Linked DNA regions of Homo sapiens: region 2 is linked to region 1. A link means that fine-mapping ties the variant in region 1 to the expression of a gene that starts in the linked region. Tissue or cell type: sun-exposed skin. Region 1 holds a variant in brackets; the other region holds the start of a gene. All regions are shown on one strand. Distances are from middle to middle.

Evidence for each region. PIP is the estimated chance that this variant, and not a neighbour inherited with it, causes the effect.
Region 2: it holds the start of LRATD1, and the variant in region 1 is fine-mapped to the expression of LRATD1 in sun-exposed skin (GTEx, PIP 0.98).

What each region holds. Positions count from the first base shown.
Region 1 is chr2:14,519,802-14,527,987 of GRCh38, forward strand. No RefSeq gene overlaps it. Among named protein-coding and RNA genes, the nearest start is that of LRATD1, 110 kb to the right of the region's middle. The variant A/G (reference allele first, on the strand shown) is at 4,566.
Region 2 is chr2:14,629,226-14,637,411 of GRCh38, forward strand. It overlaps LRATD1 (LRAT domain containing 1), which reads left to right and starts at 3,492. Exons shown (of 2, transcript NM_145175.4): 1 at 3,492-3,712; 2 at 4,719-8,186. The coding sequence starts at 4,755. The coding sequence ends at 5,633.

The DNA of each region.
Region 1 (8,186 bases):
TTTGTATGGGGGTAGGGGTCCTTGAATTGTAATTAATCTGTCTCTAGGAGATCAATGTATCTGACAGAGCCAGGGTCCATAAATTAGTACAATCAGTGTCTTTATGGCATCATGCAAGTTTCATGGCATGAGAAACCACATTTCCAGAAAGAGCAGTGAGTGGAAAACACTTTGGAATACATTGCCTCTGATTCCTGTAAGGTGACATTTTCTTCAGGCTACATTAGGTCTAATCATTAGGGTGAATACTACCCATTGGGAAAATGCATGTCAGAATCTTAAAGTAGGCAGAAATGTGATGGTTTTTCAACAAAAAGTATGTTCTGTCTCCAAAAACCATACATAGAGAGAACAGTTACGTAAGAAATAATTACAATTTGACTGTATAAGCTCAGTACAATGAGACCTTTCCTAAGGTTCTCTGTCACCTTTGGGATGAGGCCAAACCTCTCAGCAAATGAGGAATGCAGGCCCCTCAGTAAGCTGCCTTCTGCCACCTTTTCTAGCTCAACACTCAGGTTCCCGATTTAGATCTTATGCCCTGGGTTGTGCTGAACTATTTGTATTTCCCAAAACATACCATGTTTTACATTTGGCGCTGCTTCTCTTCCTGTCTTCTCTGCCGGGAATTTTTTTTTTTTTTTTTTTTTTGAGATGGAGTCTTGCTCTGTCATCCAGGCTGGAGTGCAGTGGCGTGATCTCGGCTCTTTGCAAGCTCCGCTTCCCGGGTTCACACCATTCTCCTGCCTCAGCCTCCTGAGTAGCTGGGATTACAGGTACATGCCACCACCCCCCTGCCGGGAATTCTTTCTTCTCTTTCTGTCTGGCAAAGCTCCATCCTTAATGATTCAGTCAGAATATCACCTCCTCTGCACAGTTGCTTACTCCCTCCTATGTGCCACTAGTTTTCTCTTAACTTGCCGTTCTTTTAATCCCCCAGTTCTCAGCACTGCCGCTGTGACTAGGCCATGAGCTCCTTTAAGGCAAAGATAATGTCCTGTTCCTCCCTTTTCTCCAAAGCCAGCCAGAGGGACAAGAACATAGCAGGTGCTCTGACAAAGTGATTTTGATGAAGACAGAGGATGCCATAAATCCCAGCAACTCTCAAAATAACACATATTGTATGAAACGGATATGAATTCCAGAGTAGAAGTAAAAACATAAGGATGATTTTGCCATAAGACAAAATGGCATAAGGCACCATAGAACGGTAATCTTGTCCTATAAGGTTTGAATGGGCCACTATAATTGAGTCACGTGTAAGATATTATATGTAAAGCCAGTTATATGTTGATGAGTAACTTGTTCCTTCTACCTGAAATTTTCTTATTTTTCATGTCCAAATTTCATCCTTAAGTGAAGGCCCAGTTCATTCACCAGCTCTCCGACAGGGTTTTCAATGTTAGCTTCAGGGGTACTTCATTCCATCTTTCTCTGAGTTTATATGGTGCTTTAATTACTTTTCTCTTGTGATATTTATAAGTCTCTCTCTCTTACATTGTGATCTATATATAATTTATTATGAAATTTATGTAAATTATTAAGGCTCATATCTCCCATGAAATTAGAATATACTTCAGGTCTGTTCTAGTTATCAATTGTTGTGTAACAAATAATCTAAAAATAGTTATTTAAAATACAACAACCATTTATCTCTCATGATTTCTAGGGGTCAGAAATTTGAGAATCATCTAGTTGGGCAATTCTGGCTTGGAGTTTCTTCTGTAGTCATAGATGGTTCAGTCTTGGGCATATCTGCATAGATCTGCAGTCTTCTGCAGTCGGCAGATAGTGACTAGAGCCGGAACAGTGGAAGGCAGCTAAGGGCTGACTGGACATCTCTCTTCTCCATGTGTTTGCTCCGCGTGAGTTAGTTTGGGCTTCCGCACAAGATGGCAACCTCAAACTTCTCAAATGGCAGCTCAAGGCCCTCAAAGCAAGTATCCCAAGAAAACCAGAAGTTGCATTACCTTTTATGACCTGGCCTCAGAAGTCAGGGTTGCTGTACAGTCAAGTCAGTTACAAAAGCCTGACCAAGTTCAAGAGGAGAGGGCATAGACTTCATAAAAAGTTCTGGAAGAGCATGTGGGACAGGAAATATTTCTGCTATTGTTTTTGGAATATGGATTTTGTCTTGCGTGTGTTTTTTATCTTTACTCCCAGCATTGGTTCTATGTGCTTGGCCTTGAGCTCAGTAAATATTTTTTGAATGGATAAATTAATGACTGCCGAGTTATAGTAACAACATTGTCTGGTACTAATATTCGAACCACCATACTTCCCTTGATATGGTTTGACTGTGTCCCCACCCAGATTTCATCTTAATTGTAGCTCCCATAATTCCCACATGTCGGGGGAAGGACCCTGGTGGGGGGTAGTTGAAACATGGGGATGGGTCTTTCCCAGGCTGTTCTCATGATAGTGAGTAAGTCTCACAAGATCTGATGGTATTATAAAGGGGAGTTCTCCTATACACACTCTCTAGCCTACCTCCATGTAAGACATGACTTGGCTCTTCCTTTGCCTTCCACCATGATGGTAGGGTCTCCCCAGCCATGTGAAACTGTGAGTCAATTAAACCTCTTTCCTTTATAAACTACCAGCATTGGGTATGTCTTTATTAGCAGCATGAGAACAGACTAATACATTCCTTATCCAGTCCTCAGCTACCGTCAGCTTTTTGTCCAAAAGAGGAATGAACAGAAGATACATTTTTTCTTGACACTAATTATTAGGAAGAATTGAATACATACTATTACTCCTCCCAAACAAATTCAAAGTCAGGACAAGAAAATGTTACCTTTAATTATTCTTGTAATTATTTGAGTAGCCATTCAAAGTATCAGAATATTTTTCCTCTGACTTTTCAAAAAAAAGTATTTTAATTTATGGATCTAGTATCTATCCACTTGAGAGAAGTTTCTAGGCTTTTTAGCAATATTTTATCTAATGTGAGAATTTTTATACCCTAAATATTAACATATGTATGTATGTATGTATGTGTATATATTATGAAATACTAGCCATATGTGTAAATACATACATACATATAGTGTATGTATGTAGGATAATATATATTCATGGATAACACTGTTCATTTTTCTCTTTTAGCAAGGGTGGAGTTCATTGAGTTCAAGAATGTTCTTCACAGCTGTTCTGTGTTTGGAACATATCATCATGCTGTAGTGTGCCTGTGTGTTTGTATTTGTGCATAATTTGGGGCATAAAGAAATATTTTAAAACAAGACATACCTATATGAGCAGAAAATCAGAAGTAGTAAGCTCTTGTGTTATTCGTTTACAATTTCTCTGTTCAAGACTAGTAGTTTGAGTCACTTATTACACTTTACTGTATGTTACACTAAAATTTTGTCTCCTTTTATAAATTACCAGTCTCTTGAGTCCAGGAATGATATTTGCAGCTTTACTGCAATCCAAGCAGATCCAACATGCCAACTAAGTGACCAGCTGACCTAAGGAGTATGAATGAAGGCATCGGTGGCAAAGCCCCACTCGGTGCCTGAAAGCACAAGATTCACACAATCCAGTTGTGGGTTTCTCATGGCTAAAACAGACAGTCTTAACTGACAGTTAACTTTAGGGGAGAAGCTATAAGCAAACACGGTATTATATTGTCTGAGTGTTTATCTCTTATGATAGGTTTTTTTTTCCTGCAGTAGACGTCTTGAAAAAGGTATGTAAAATGTAGGCAGCAAATATTCAAAACTGCACAGCCTGTTCCACAAGATTCCAGTTCTAAGAGTAAGTAAAAGAGAGGCAGGCCGGGCACGGGAGTTCATGCCTATAATCCCAGCACTTTGGGAGGCTGAGGCGGGCAGATCACATGAGGTCAGGAGTTCGAGACCAGCGAGGCCAACATGGTGAAACCCCGTCTCTACTAAAAATACAAAATTAGTCGGGTGTGGTGGTGCGCACCTGTAATCCCAGCTACTCTGGAGGCTAAGGAAGGAGAATCACTAGAACCCGGGAGGCAGAAGTTGCAGTGAGCTGAGATTGTGCCACTGCACTCCAGCCTGCGCAAAAAGAGAGAAACTCCATCAAAAAAAAAAAAAAAAAGAAAGAAAGAAAGGCAAACCCTTTTCTAAACCCATATTCACTTCTTCCCCTCATCTCCATCTCCTAGATTTCACTGTCTAGGATTTTCTCTCATTTTTGCTACACTGATGGGATTTGATTATACCAATTTGTTAAGCCTCAAATTCAGTTTCATTTCCTCCAATGTATCCTTCTTTTTTATGGGATGTGTTGTATAAATAAATGTTGTAGTATAAATAACAAAGTACCAGAATATGTGGGGTTAATTTCAATGAAGTAAATTACTAGTTTAGAGTTCTTGGTCTGAACACTTGGCCTCCCTCATAAAAAATCTGGTTAAGTATATTCCTCCCCTGGATGTGATCAAACAAGAGTGGTCAATGAGTTAGTCATTCAACCACAGAAACTGTACCAGAATCTGCAGGAAGTAAACAAATATTACAAAGCTGATGACCTCAAAGAGATCTGAGTTTTATAGGAGAGAGACAGAGATGATTAAACTGACAATA[A/G]TACCATTACGTACTGGATACAGCAGGCTCTAAGAGTATAGAATGGACTGCTAGATATATTTAACAAAAATATTTATATTAATTATAATTGACACCTGTCAGTAAGAATGTTTGGATATATGTGGAAAGTCTGAATACACTTGCCGTAGGTTAAATACCTGCAGTAAGAGAAATGCAAAGGTGTGTGAATAGCTCCTTCAACTCACATAGCAGGTTTGTATGCTCTACTCCCCCACACCATTCTTCCAGAGGTGGCGTGCTGTGGATTCTGAAGGGAGAAGTGGAGGGTTATCAGATGACTTGTTGTTTGGGCGATGGAGACAGTAATCACGTCCATGTCACTTTTGGAGAAAGTGAAAGAAGAGCGAGCAATTTACCCTATTTTAATGAAAGCAGATGGAGAGGTCATGGGAACTTGTTTAAGGCATTAGCGAACTGCCTCTTCAAATTAAGGACTTTTGAGAATTGAAAGAGTTCTGAGAAACCCTGATGGCTCACAAGATTGTGTGTTCTTACTCAGTGATCAGCCATCTAAGTCTCCTAAACATTAAACCACAGGAATATGCAAGGGCATGGTTTATTGCTTTAATGAAATGTAGGTAGGCAGATTCAAGGTAAGGTGGTGGAACAATCAGAGACAGTCAGAGTTTCCCATTGAGCTGCCCCCCATTTAATGGAATCACAGGCTTTAATGAATCACAGAGCCATCTGGTAGAAATAAAGTAACAATGTCTGAGAAGATTTTTAAATGTGCACGCATTTGAATAATGTTTCCAAGTTTTGGGAGTCTGTATCTGAAAGTGCAAATATCCTTATATATTGGAATGATTAAGCATCTCCCCTAAAAGTGCAACTTAGTTTTAAAAGAAATTAATCCATCTAAAATCTTGTGAGGTTGTACCAATATAGACATTTTAATCACACAAGACGCTATCAAACAAAGTAAGGTAAAAGAAAGAAGAAAAGGGAAAGGAAGGAAAGAGGAAGGAAGAGGAGAAGGAGGGAGGGTGGGAGCAAGGAAGGAAGGGAGGAAAATGGAAGAAAGGAAGAAATAAAGAAAGAAAACTATGCTTTTGTTTGGACTAGAGAAGCCAGTATTCACCTAGTGAGGGAAATATATTTATCTTGTGGTCCTTTTTAGTAACGTAAAAAAATACAAGATATCTGAGATTTTTATACTAAATAATTGAGTTTTACTTACATGTTTTATGTAAGGTTGGTGATTTGGGACTAACATGAAAAAGATGTTAGACCTGAAATAGCCATTGGCCATCATTGAGTTAAAATTTAGTTTGTTACTGTCGAGTAAAATGAGGTTGATAAAGGAAGCAATTCTCTTTTAGGCTATGCAACAATGGCTTATATAAAAATATACCAGAACTCAGCAATAAAGAAACAAGTCAAGGTCTTATATTATCTAACTCAAATTACATAGCTTTTGGAACCTTGAATTTCCATATAGGTTAGGCATTTTCTATGTCACACATCTAATAATACATACACTAATTTAAATTTAAAAACACATGGTGACTAACAAAGATAGAAAAGAGAAGAGAAATATATACTCAACTGGATTTCTTTACTGAACACAGCAAACCAAAAATTGGTTTAAATTATTCATAAGCAAAAATAATCTTCTATATGAATGACATCAGAATTAAATTCTGGTCTAGTTCAAATGATTATTATCCAATCTTACCATGTGGAAAAACATGTCCTTTAAAAAGAAAAATTTAGCATGAAATTGAGAGTTCTATAGAAAACAATCGTTAACCCTTAAATCTAAAGGTTGAGATCAATAGCATGATTTTATAGTATTTTCACAGAAAAAAAAATCCTCAATCTTAAAATAATTAAACTTATTGAATCAGTTAAAATTTCGCAGAGTTGAAGACTAATCAATAAAAGAAAATGGGTATTCTCAGTTCCTCACCAAGCTTCCTTGATAAGGATACAGAACCCCTGAAGGAGAAGGAGAACATATTATACTTTACAAGGGTATGGGCCTCAGCAGCCAAGGCTTGGGTGGAAGGACGCAGAAACCAGAGGCAAGAGCAGCCCTCCATTGACAGGACAAAAGAAGAGTATGCATAGTACATGCAAACTTTAAGCACACATTCAGGGGATGTTCAAGGGTGATGTCAGGTAGAGCCTGGCAGACACAAGAACCTTAGTGCCAAGAGAGAATGGGCTCAAAGCTGTAAAGAAAAGAGGCTCCAGCTCTGTGAAGTTACCATATTCTTGGGAGAAAGAGCAAACAATAGAGTATGAAATAAAGCCAGACGAAGAATACAAGAACGTAGAGAAATGCAGGAAAGAATAAAGATATTAGAAGGGAAGCTAGGGGAAAGGAATAGTTTCCTCTGTCCCTCAGGTCCAGTGGTAGATGGGGATCTGGATCCAGTGTCTTGCGAGATGAAGTCTGCATGAACTCAGAAGGGTGTTTGGCTCCAGCCAAGCAGCACAGGGACCAGAGTAGAACACTCATCTTAATCAGGATAAGGAAAGGCTTCCCTTGGGAAAAATAAAGTGGAGCTCAAGAATTATAGATATATTTCGAAGAAGAAAAGAGGCTCCAGCTCTGTGAAGTTACCAGATTCTTGAGAGAAAGAGAAAAAAGGGAAGAGAAGATAAAGAAAGTCCGAGAAGGAATACAAGAAAGTGGAGAAAGGCAGGTGTGAAAGAAGATATTAGAGGGGAAGATAGAGGAAAGGACAAATCTCAGATATTCTAGAGTTAAGTGCTCCTGTCACCGCCACTAAAGGATTATGAGACTTCCTGGTTCTATAAGATTCACAGTTCCCACTCCATATGTGAGCCCGGTCCAGTGGAGATACCCAGAATTTGTCATGGGAGACAGAGTCCTTGCTCAGACACCTACTATACAATATGGATACCATCAAATGAATCACCTTATCTCTTTATGCATCAATTTCCTCTTCTGCAAAACTAGAATAAAAATATTTTATCCACACAGGCTTATTGTGAACACTAATACACAATGTGTGTGTATGTGTGCATATGTTTTTTTTTTTCTTTTTGAGACTGAGTCCTGCTCCGTCACCCAGGCTGGAATGCAGTGGCACGATCTCTGCTCACTGCAAATTCTGCCTCCCAGGTTCACGAGATTCTGGTGCCTTAGCCCCCGAGTAGTTGGGATTACAGATGCCCCACCACCACGCCCAGGTAATTTTTGTATTTTTAGTAGAGACAGGGTTTCACCATGTTGGCCAGGCTGTTCTCGAACTTCTGAGCTCAAGTGATCTGCCTGCCTCAACCTCCCGAAGTGTTGGGATTATAGGCGTGAGCCACCACACCTGGCCCACAATACATTTTTAATTTAAAAATTTAAGATAAAATTTAGCACTTGCTGTGTGCTGGGGAATGTGTCAATAAATTTCCCTGAGTTAGTCCATTTAGCTCCCCTCTGCAGCCTTATGAAGTAAATGCTACTTCCTAAAATTTTAATGACTTATATGAAAGTATTCTGTATGCTATGAATTGCTATGCACATGGTCATTATTGTGCTACTTGTACATCTCACGATGGTCACTGATGTTTTCCTTCAGTGTACTTTCTAAAGCCTAGTTACTAGGAGGTGGTTGTGAATGGACAGCCAAG
Region 2 (8,186 bases), 110 kb after region 1:
AGAGTATTCTTTAGCTCAGACCAGGGTGAGTATGTTAACTGCCTAAGGCAGTGAAGGACAGGAGATGGAACAGTTCATTTCATTAAAGGATAAAGTGGGGCATATAATTTTCCTGAACCCTTACTCCAAGCTCCAAGGCCAATTTTAAAGGATGACAGTTTGAGCCAAGGACCTGTTCAGTAAAATTTGGAGTAAAGCTTTTCAAATAGTGCCAAAGAAGCAACCAAAAACAAAAAAAAAAAAAGAGAGAGAGAGGATACATCAGATGGCACCAGCAGAAAAGATCACATACATTTGATTGACTCCTAATCACTCCCCTGTAACTTTTTTCCCCACACAAATTCCTCACACCGGAAATGTTCATTTAAAACAATTAAAAATCCTTCAGGGAACCCCCACCCCACTCCCTGCTACCACATGATCAGCCCAGGGGCTCACATGCTGAAATCTATAGAGAGCTTTAGGTCTCAGAGTATTTGAAGGATAGGCAGGGATCTCACCACCTTAACACAGAAGCAGTCCTACACCCCAATCAGGGAAAGCCTTGGACACTATCTATTGCTACCTTTAGCCTGGGGCAAAGGAGAAAGAGAACTGCACAGCTGTCCTAAACAAGTAGGGTATGAGACCTCTCTCTTCCACCAAGAATAATAATAAGATAGCCTTGATTGAAAACTCACTGTGCGTCAGACACTATGCTTACATGTATGAACTCACAACAATTCAGTGAGGTAACCACTATTATTATCTCTTTTTTACAGATAAGGAAGTTTCCTGATGCCCACAAAGTTTAAATAACGGACTCGAGGTTACCCAGCAATAAATGTTGAAAAAGAGTTTAAATTAGTTGGCTTTCAGAGTTTGTGTTTTGGACAACTATATTCTACTTTGGACAGCACTGTATTTTCTCATTGTAAAAGCAGGCAGGATGGAGTAAAAAATAAAAGTCAAAACAATTTGAAAACAATATTTTGTGATGAACATAAAACATTTTCTACAATCAGCATCCTTCATTTGATTGTCTTACTTTATTATCTGGTAAGTGCCAAAAGAAGACAAAGTGTAGATGTATTTTCCTTAGTTTACTTTTAGCTCCCTTTATTTCAAGCCTCACAGTCAATGTGTTCCCTGCCTTATGTTTCAAGGGGGCTCCAGGGTATTTTTTCTCCCATGTGATTACAAAAGCAGTTAGCCGTTTAGCCTAGCAGGGGGAATGAGAGGAAACGGAGAGGCCAAAAATTTTAAACTTTAGGCACTATATCTCCAATAACTGACAACATTTTATCTTAATTATGCTTTATAGTATTGGAATACTAAACAAAGAGGAACGACCTGCTTACTCTGTAGTCTGGAGCAGAATGAAATAGAACACGTAGGGCAGAACACAACAAATGAGTTGTAAATGTCTGTGCACAAGGCTTGATCTTGGGGATGGAGGGAGGATATTTTTTAAGTTATTCAAACGCTGAGTTGCTTTCAAAGAGTTCTTCTCAGACATCAACAATGAACTCTTCAGATACCCTCATCCCAGACAGCCCTGAAGTCCAGTTTATAACAAGACCAATAACTCACTCCTTATCTCTAAAGCTACTTGTTCAATTCTCTTGACTTCAGGGCCAAAATGAGTTGTTTATTACTTATGGCAAGTATAAAAAAGGCCATCTCAACCTGTGGTCAGTTCCACGAATGGCAACTTGTTTTCTGATAACTTGCATGCACATGGACAATAGCCAAATTTCCAAAAAGATTTAGGTACATCAATTGTATACCGATGGTCATTTAAAACCATTTTTTCCAGCAATATTTTAGCATCTAATTTGATAAATCACTGCATTTGGAGGCTGTGGGGGTGTACAGAGACCTTCAGAAAGCAAACATAAACTGGAGGCTTGGCGGTTTGAAGATATTCAAGCAGAAAAGTCTAGCAAAGAAAAAGGGGGTTGTAATATGGATCAGTCTCCATGTAACCTTGAGCCAATCATCTAACTTCTCTGAAACACCAGTTTTCTCATTTTATGAAACAAGATTTTATTCAATAAACACTATAACTTAGTGAAAGACTGGATCTGGTATCCCGTAGGCTTGGATGGATTGCTGGTACTAGTATTGGAGCTTTTGTTTCCCTGTTTGTTACAATTCGGATATTAGTGAGTACCCTACAGAGGAATAATGATTAAATTGTCTACTTAATTTACTCTTAAGTGTCTGACCACGTATAAGTGGTCAATACAGGCTGTTTTCATTTTTACTATTACTGATGGAACACACTGCATGACTAGCATTGGGAAAGAGGCCCAGAATACAAGGTTGTGCAGAATGCAAAGTCTATTCTCAAGGAATTCGCTTTGTAGGGAAGAGGTGGGGGGTTCAAATAGGAAGTATCAAATTCCTCATTGGGAAAGAAAAGAGGCTTCATAGAAAAGCTGCTGGAGCCCAGGCTTAAAGATGAGTAGCATTGGGGCCAGAACCAGATGTCTAAGAACTCTTTGAGGCTTAATGTTAGGAACTTTTGAAACTATTGGTCTGGAATGTTGTATATATGAAGTTCATTTTTTCAGCATCCAATATTCAGAACACATTCATTCATTAACTTTCCATCCAGAAATGTAATCATTAACTACTGCTGGAGCCTCCTTTCCCACAAAACCAAACAAAACTTGCTTAGCAATCCCAATTCTGAGGCTTGGAAAACACTTTTACATCCTACTCTCTGCTTGCATGTATGAACTCACATACATGAGTTGTGAGGTACTCCTCCTATATTCAGAAAATTGGAGGCCAATATCATAGGCACAGCCAGGGAATGCACCGGCCAAAGCTCAGGCTTTTGGGTGGCATTTGACACCAAGCTCCTTTTAAATCGGGCATCAGCTCTGGGTCAGCAGCCTCACTCCAGTCAAAGAAGAGGAGCCAAACGTCGCAGGAGCAATTTCAAAGACGTCTGGGGAACGAAAAGGGTCTTCGATCCAAGGACCAGCCTAGGGGCCATCGGGAACCAAGGCTCTGGGGGATCCCAGCAGGGCCCAGACGCCCGCCTCGGGCAATGTCGCTGCCTGCCCCGGGCCGCTCGCAGTGCCTGGGCCATACTGGGGTGCCCTGGGGTTTCTTCTCCATACCCAGACTCAGCTTCCCCGCTGGAGTCTGTCTTCCTGGAACACGGAACGCGGGCGGGCTGTGTTCTCAGTCACAATCAGCTCGGATGAGCTGGGGGGCGCGGGCGCAAGCGGGCATCGGCACCTGGCAGAAAGCGCCGCGCCCCCCGCGGGTGCGCACACCTCCGCTCCCCGGGGCGGCGCGCGGTCGGGTGTGCGGGGTACGGGGCGGGGCGGAGCGGAGCAGAGCAAAGCGCACAGGAGGCCCGCCTCTGCTCCCCTCCCCCGCCGGCGAAGATTGACACAGCTCGAGCACCCGCCCCAACCAATGAGCGCGTCCTGGGGCGGGCCCTGGGACCGGCTGCTCCGGCTACTTAGAGTCGTCGGCGCGGCGGTGGGAAAGCAGAGCCGAGCCGGGACTGTCCAGTGGGAGCAGGCGCCCCGGCCAGCGCAGACCTGGAGGCGCACGGGCGCCGCACCGCACGATTCGGCTCGGGGTAGAGCGGAGCCGCAGCCCCACGCGCAGCCCAGGACCCACTCGCCACCGCCGCTTCCTCAGCACCCATGGGGACCAGGAGACTTTAAAGGAGTTTGGGGTTTCGGGAGCAGGGAAATCACGGGTAGGGAGAAGCGGCTTTCTTTGCCTTGGAAACGGTTTTTCTTCATCCGATTGTTTGGATCCTGTGCTGGGTAGGAGGGAGAGGGGTCTTTGGGCTAAAAGTGAACCTCTCTACACACACACGCTCCCACCCACACCCACACACATACACTGCACTGGCTTTCTCCATCCTTCCCCTGCCTCTTTGTTAGGTTATTTTAGACAGAGCAGCCTCGCCCTGGCGCAGTCCCATTGGCCCTGATGGGGACAAGGCAAGAGAAGTAAGGGGCAGAGTGCACCTGCCTGTGAGGGCAGGTGTGCCCGGGTGCTTGGGCGTACGTGCAACGGCGAGCGTGCAAGCGTGGAGCTGAAATTGTGTACGAATGTGTGGGGTCTAAGTGTGCCAGTGTGTCGTCGCGAAGGTTTGTCATTGTGGGTGTATGTGACATACACCAGTATACCAGGCTGCCAGTGTCTGGACTCCCAAGTGTCCAAAATGTTGCTGGTGTCAAGTGAATGCCTGAGAATGTGTCTGATTGTCATTGTGCGAGCCGCTGTAAGGGGAGGAAGGCAACCTAGTGCAAAACTGGGAGGTGGGCTGGAGAGGGTGGGGACAGAAATGGGAGCTTGCTCCCAGCTCACTGGCCTTAGGCTCCCTTCTCCCTTTCAGCCCACCCCTCGGTCCTTCCTGGGTGTCCGTCTCCCACACTGCCACAGCCAGCACTCTCCTCCCCACCGGGACCCCGCAAGCTCTCCAGCCAGCCTGGGTGTTTTCTTCTGGGAGTTGGACCGAGTTCCCGGAAGGGGTCGGAGGCTGTGTGGTGGCGTCTGCTCTCGCCTGACCTGTGGCGGCTTCTCCGCCCCTCGTACCCCTGGGGAGGCACGGAGGACTCGGCTGGAAAGGGTGACTCCGGTGAGGGCACGTAAGCTAGCCGGCAGGTCCCAGGGGCACTGCACGTCTTGGGGAGGGACACCGAAAGGGGCAGCCCGGACTCTGACGGTGTCTCTGCCTCTCTGTGCCTCCGCAGATCCCCGCTCCTGGCCCTCGCCTCGCCACCTCATTGATGGGCAACCAACTGGACCGCATCACCCACCTCAACTACAGCGAGTTGCCCACAGGGGACCCGTCGGGGATTGAAAAGGACGAACTGCGGGTCGGGGTTGCCTACTTCTTCTCGGATGATGAGGAAGACCTGGACGAACGCGGGCAGCCCGACAAGTTTGGCGTGAAGGCCCCCCCGGGTTGCACCCCCTGCCCGGAGAGCCCCAGCCGCCACCACCACCACCTGCTGCACCAGCTGGTCCTCAACGAGACTCAGTTTTCCGCCTTTCGGGGCCAGGAATGCATCTTTTCCAAAGTGAGCGGTGGCCCTCAGGGCGCCGACCTAAGCGTCTACGCGGTCACCGCGCTGCCAGCGCTCTGCGAACCCGGCGACCTGCTGGAGCTGCTGTGGCTGCAGCCCGCGCCGGAGCCGCCCGCGCCCGCCCCGCACTGGGCCGTCTACGTGGGCGGCGGGCAGATCATCCACCTGCACCAAGGCGAGATCCGCCAGGACAGCCTGTATGAGGCGGGCGCGGCCAACGTGGGCCGGGTGGTGAATAGCTGGTACCGCTACCGCCCGCTGGTGGCCGAGCTGGTGGTGCAGAACGCCTGCGGCCACCTGGGCCTCAAGAGCGAGGAGATCTGCTGGACGAACTCGGAGAGCTTCGCCGCCTGGTGCCGCTTTGGCAAGCGGGAGTTCAAGGCGGGAGGGGAGGTGCCGGCAGGCACGCAGCCCCCGCAGCAGCAGTACTATCTCAAGGTGCACCTGGGAGAGAACAAGGTCCACACCGCCAGGTTTCACAGCCTGGAAGACCTCATCCGCGAGAAGCGCCGTATCGACGCCAGCGGCCGCCTGCGAGTGCTCCAGGAGCTCGCCGACCTCGTGGACGACAAGGAGTAGCCGCCTAGGGGCTGCCGGCCCCTCTGCCTCCCCCGCACCTCGCTCCCTTCCCTTCCCCGCACCCGGACTTCGCAGTCAGCGGTTCTCAACCTCTGCCCCGCCCCGCCACGCGCGTCCGCCGCCGGTGGCCCGGGCCCGGGCTGCACCCCCGCATCCCCAAGCCAGCGGCAGGAAGTCTCAGGAACTGCCCCAGGGCCGAAAGGGCGCCGCTGCGAGCGCCTGGCTGACAGCCACAGCGGTGGTGACGGTGCTGGGAGACCCCGCGTGCGCTTTCCCCTTGAGATGTAAACCGGGAACGGGGAAGGGGCTGAGGGGAGAAAGGACATGGCCTTCCCCGCGAGTCCATGGCCAGTGACTGTGGCCCGACTCGAAAACAACCCTCTTCTCAAAAGGGACCATCACCGCCCCGAGCGTGCGCACACAGACCGGTCGGAGGCGAGAACTGGTCTCTACAGGGCACAGTTCAGCTCCTCTGTGGATGCGTCCCCAGATCGCAGGATTTCCAAGAAATCGAGCCTGTCCCTTGTGCACTTGGGAATAATTCCCCAAGACAGCACTTCGGGATTCCGGGTTATCCTGAGGCTGCCCGGGACTTTTCCAGCTCTCCAGCCCCAGGTCTCCTGACATTGTGTTCCAGGCTGCGGGCTAAGCCAGACAGTGTTTGCCTCCGGTTCTTTCCACCGTGGGAAGCGAACGCCACCCCCACCCGCCTTTGCCTGCGAGTCTCCCTCGCTGGCAGAAGGGAAGCCGGCCCGGTCCCGGGAGGAAGATGGCGCTGCGAATTCGGTGAGGACAGCCGGCCCCGCCCCCGACAAGGAGCTCGCTCGTTCACCTGGTGTCTGGGAACTTGAATGTGTGAAGGGCGCTTATTGTTCTGAACCCTTGATTGCTCCCTCCTCGGGCTGCATTTCAAAAATAGTCATATTTTTAAAGGAGTTGGAGGAGAGGGAGGGGGAGGACATGGCACCATTCCAGAAACCAGCATTGTTACAACACCATAGCCAGTATATTTAGTTTGGCTTTTCCTAACATAGAAATCTTCAAAGCTGGGGAAGTGGAAATAAAGTTTTAAAAATGAGAGAGCAGTTTTCCAACTATGTCAACAAAGCCTATCGTGTTGATGTTTTTATTGACCATTTTAGCAACAGGCTAATAAAATTTCAAATTGAAATTTTTATTTTCATGGCTTTAATCCATGATAGTTTAAATACTGGGGGCCATTAAGAGTGGATGTAGCTAAGAGCTTAGCTAACATTGCCTTTTCACTCTATTTTTCTCAGATATTGTAAGCATTCTGTTTTTCAATATTGTAGTTAATTTTTTGGCTTTCAACAGCAGCCCTAGTAATGGTGGAGTTGTTAATTAATGTGTATATTGTACTGAATTTCTGTCAGTTAAGGGGTTCACTGCTTTGGTGGAAATTGGTGGAAATTGCTAGCAGGTTCCACGATGTTTATTTTTTTCTCCATGTTGTATATCATTACCATTTCACATACGCGTTTCTATTTTTCTTCCTCTCCTCCTGATCTCCTTAAAAATGAATCTAGAGTTGGTGGCTTTTTCCCCCTCCTCTTTGGCCAGTTCCACAGTTCAGTTCTTCCTGAAAACAGGGATGATGAACTTGTAGGATCAGGACAAATGTGTGTTTTTCAAAAACTTAAGGCTGGGTGTGAAACACCTTCTGTGGACAAGGATTTGTAAACTTCTCTCCTCCCTCCAGCTGCGGCCCCAGCCTAACTGATAGTTACTTGATTCAGTGTGCTAGACACTTAAATAGCATCTATGTCTCTTTCAAGGGAATTTGTCAAATAATGCTGTTTAGCTAATTGTTGCAAGCAATTGCATATTAACAGCTGTGATTTTGTTGGACAGCAAGTATTATGGCCAAAGCCAGTTTCTTGGCATTTCAAAAATAATGCAATAAAAACTAGTTGAGGTTAGCTGAGGCTGGAAATGCCTTTTTCATGGTAAATGATTCACTTCTATATTTTTCTTTCTTTTTCTTTTTTTTTCTTTGGTTTTCATCCTGGATTCATCCCCTGATCTTAAATCAAAACGTCAGATCAATGAACTATGAACTAAAGTATTTTTCTTAAGCCTATTGAGTGATTTATTTTTTAAAAAATGTTTAAATGCATATGCTTTTCTTTCAGCACAAACAACAGCAAAAACTTTTGTAATAACTAACTTACCTTTGCATGTATGAAGAACTGAGTCATTTATTTCCCTAACTTACTCCTCTTTCAAGTAACAGGTGGCAGATCATAAAATGAATTCTTTATTGTATCTACACACTCCACATTCTTTACTGTGTCCTACTACTGTATCTTGGCTCCCTGCTGTATTAAACACCATCTTAAGCACTTGTTCCTGCAGGACTCCTTCTTGACATTTTGTCTCCCCCTTCAAAGTCACTCAAAGAGTGGGACTTCATCAAAAGAAATGAATTAGTCTCTATCACACCGAATACTAAGATTTATTTCCTCTGATGGTACATAGATTTCTCTCTCACTAAGAGGGTCACTCTCATAGAGGAATGTCTTGTCAGTTTTA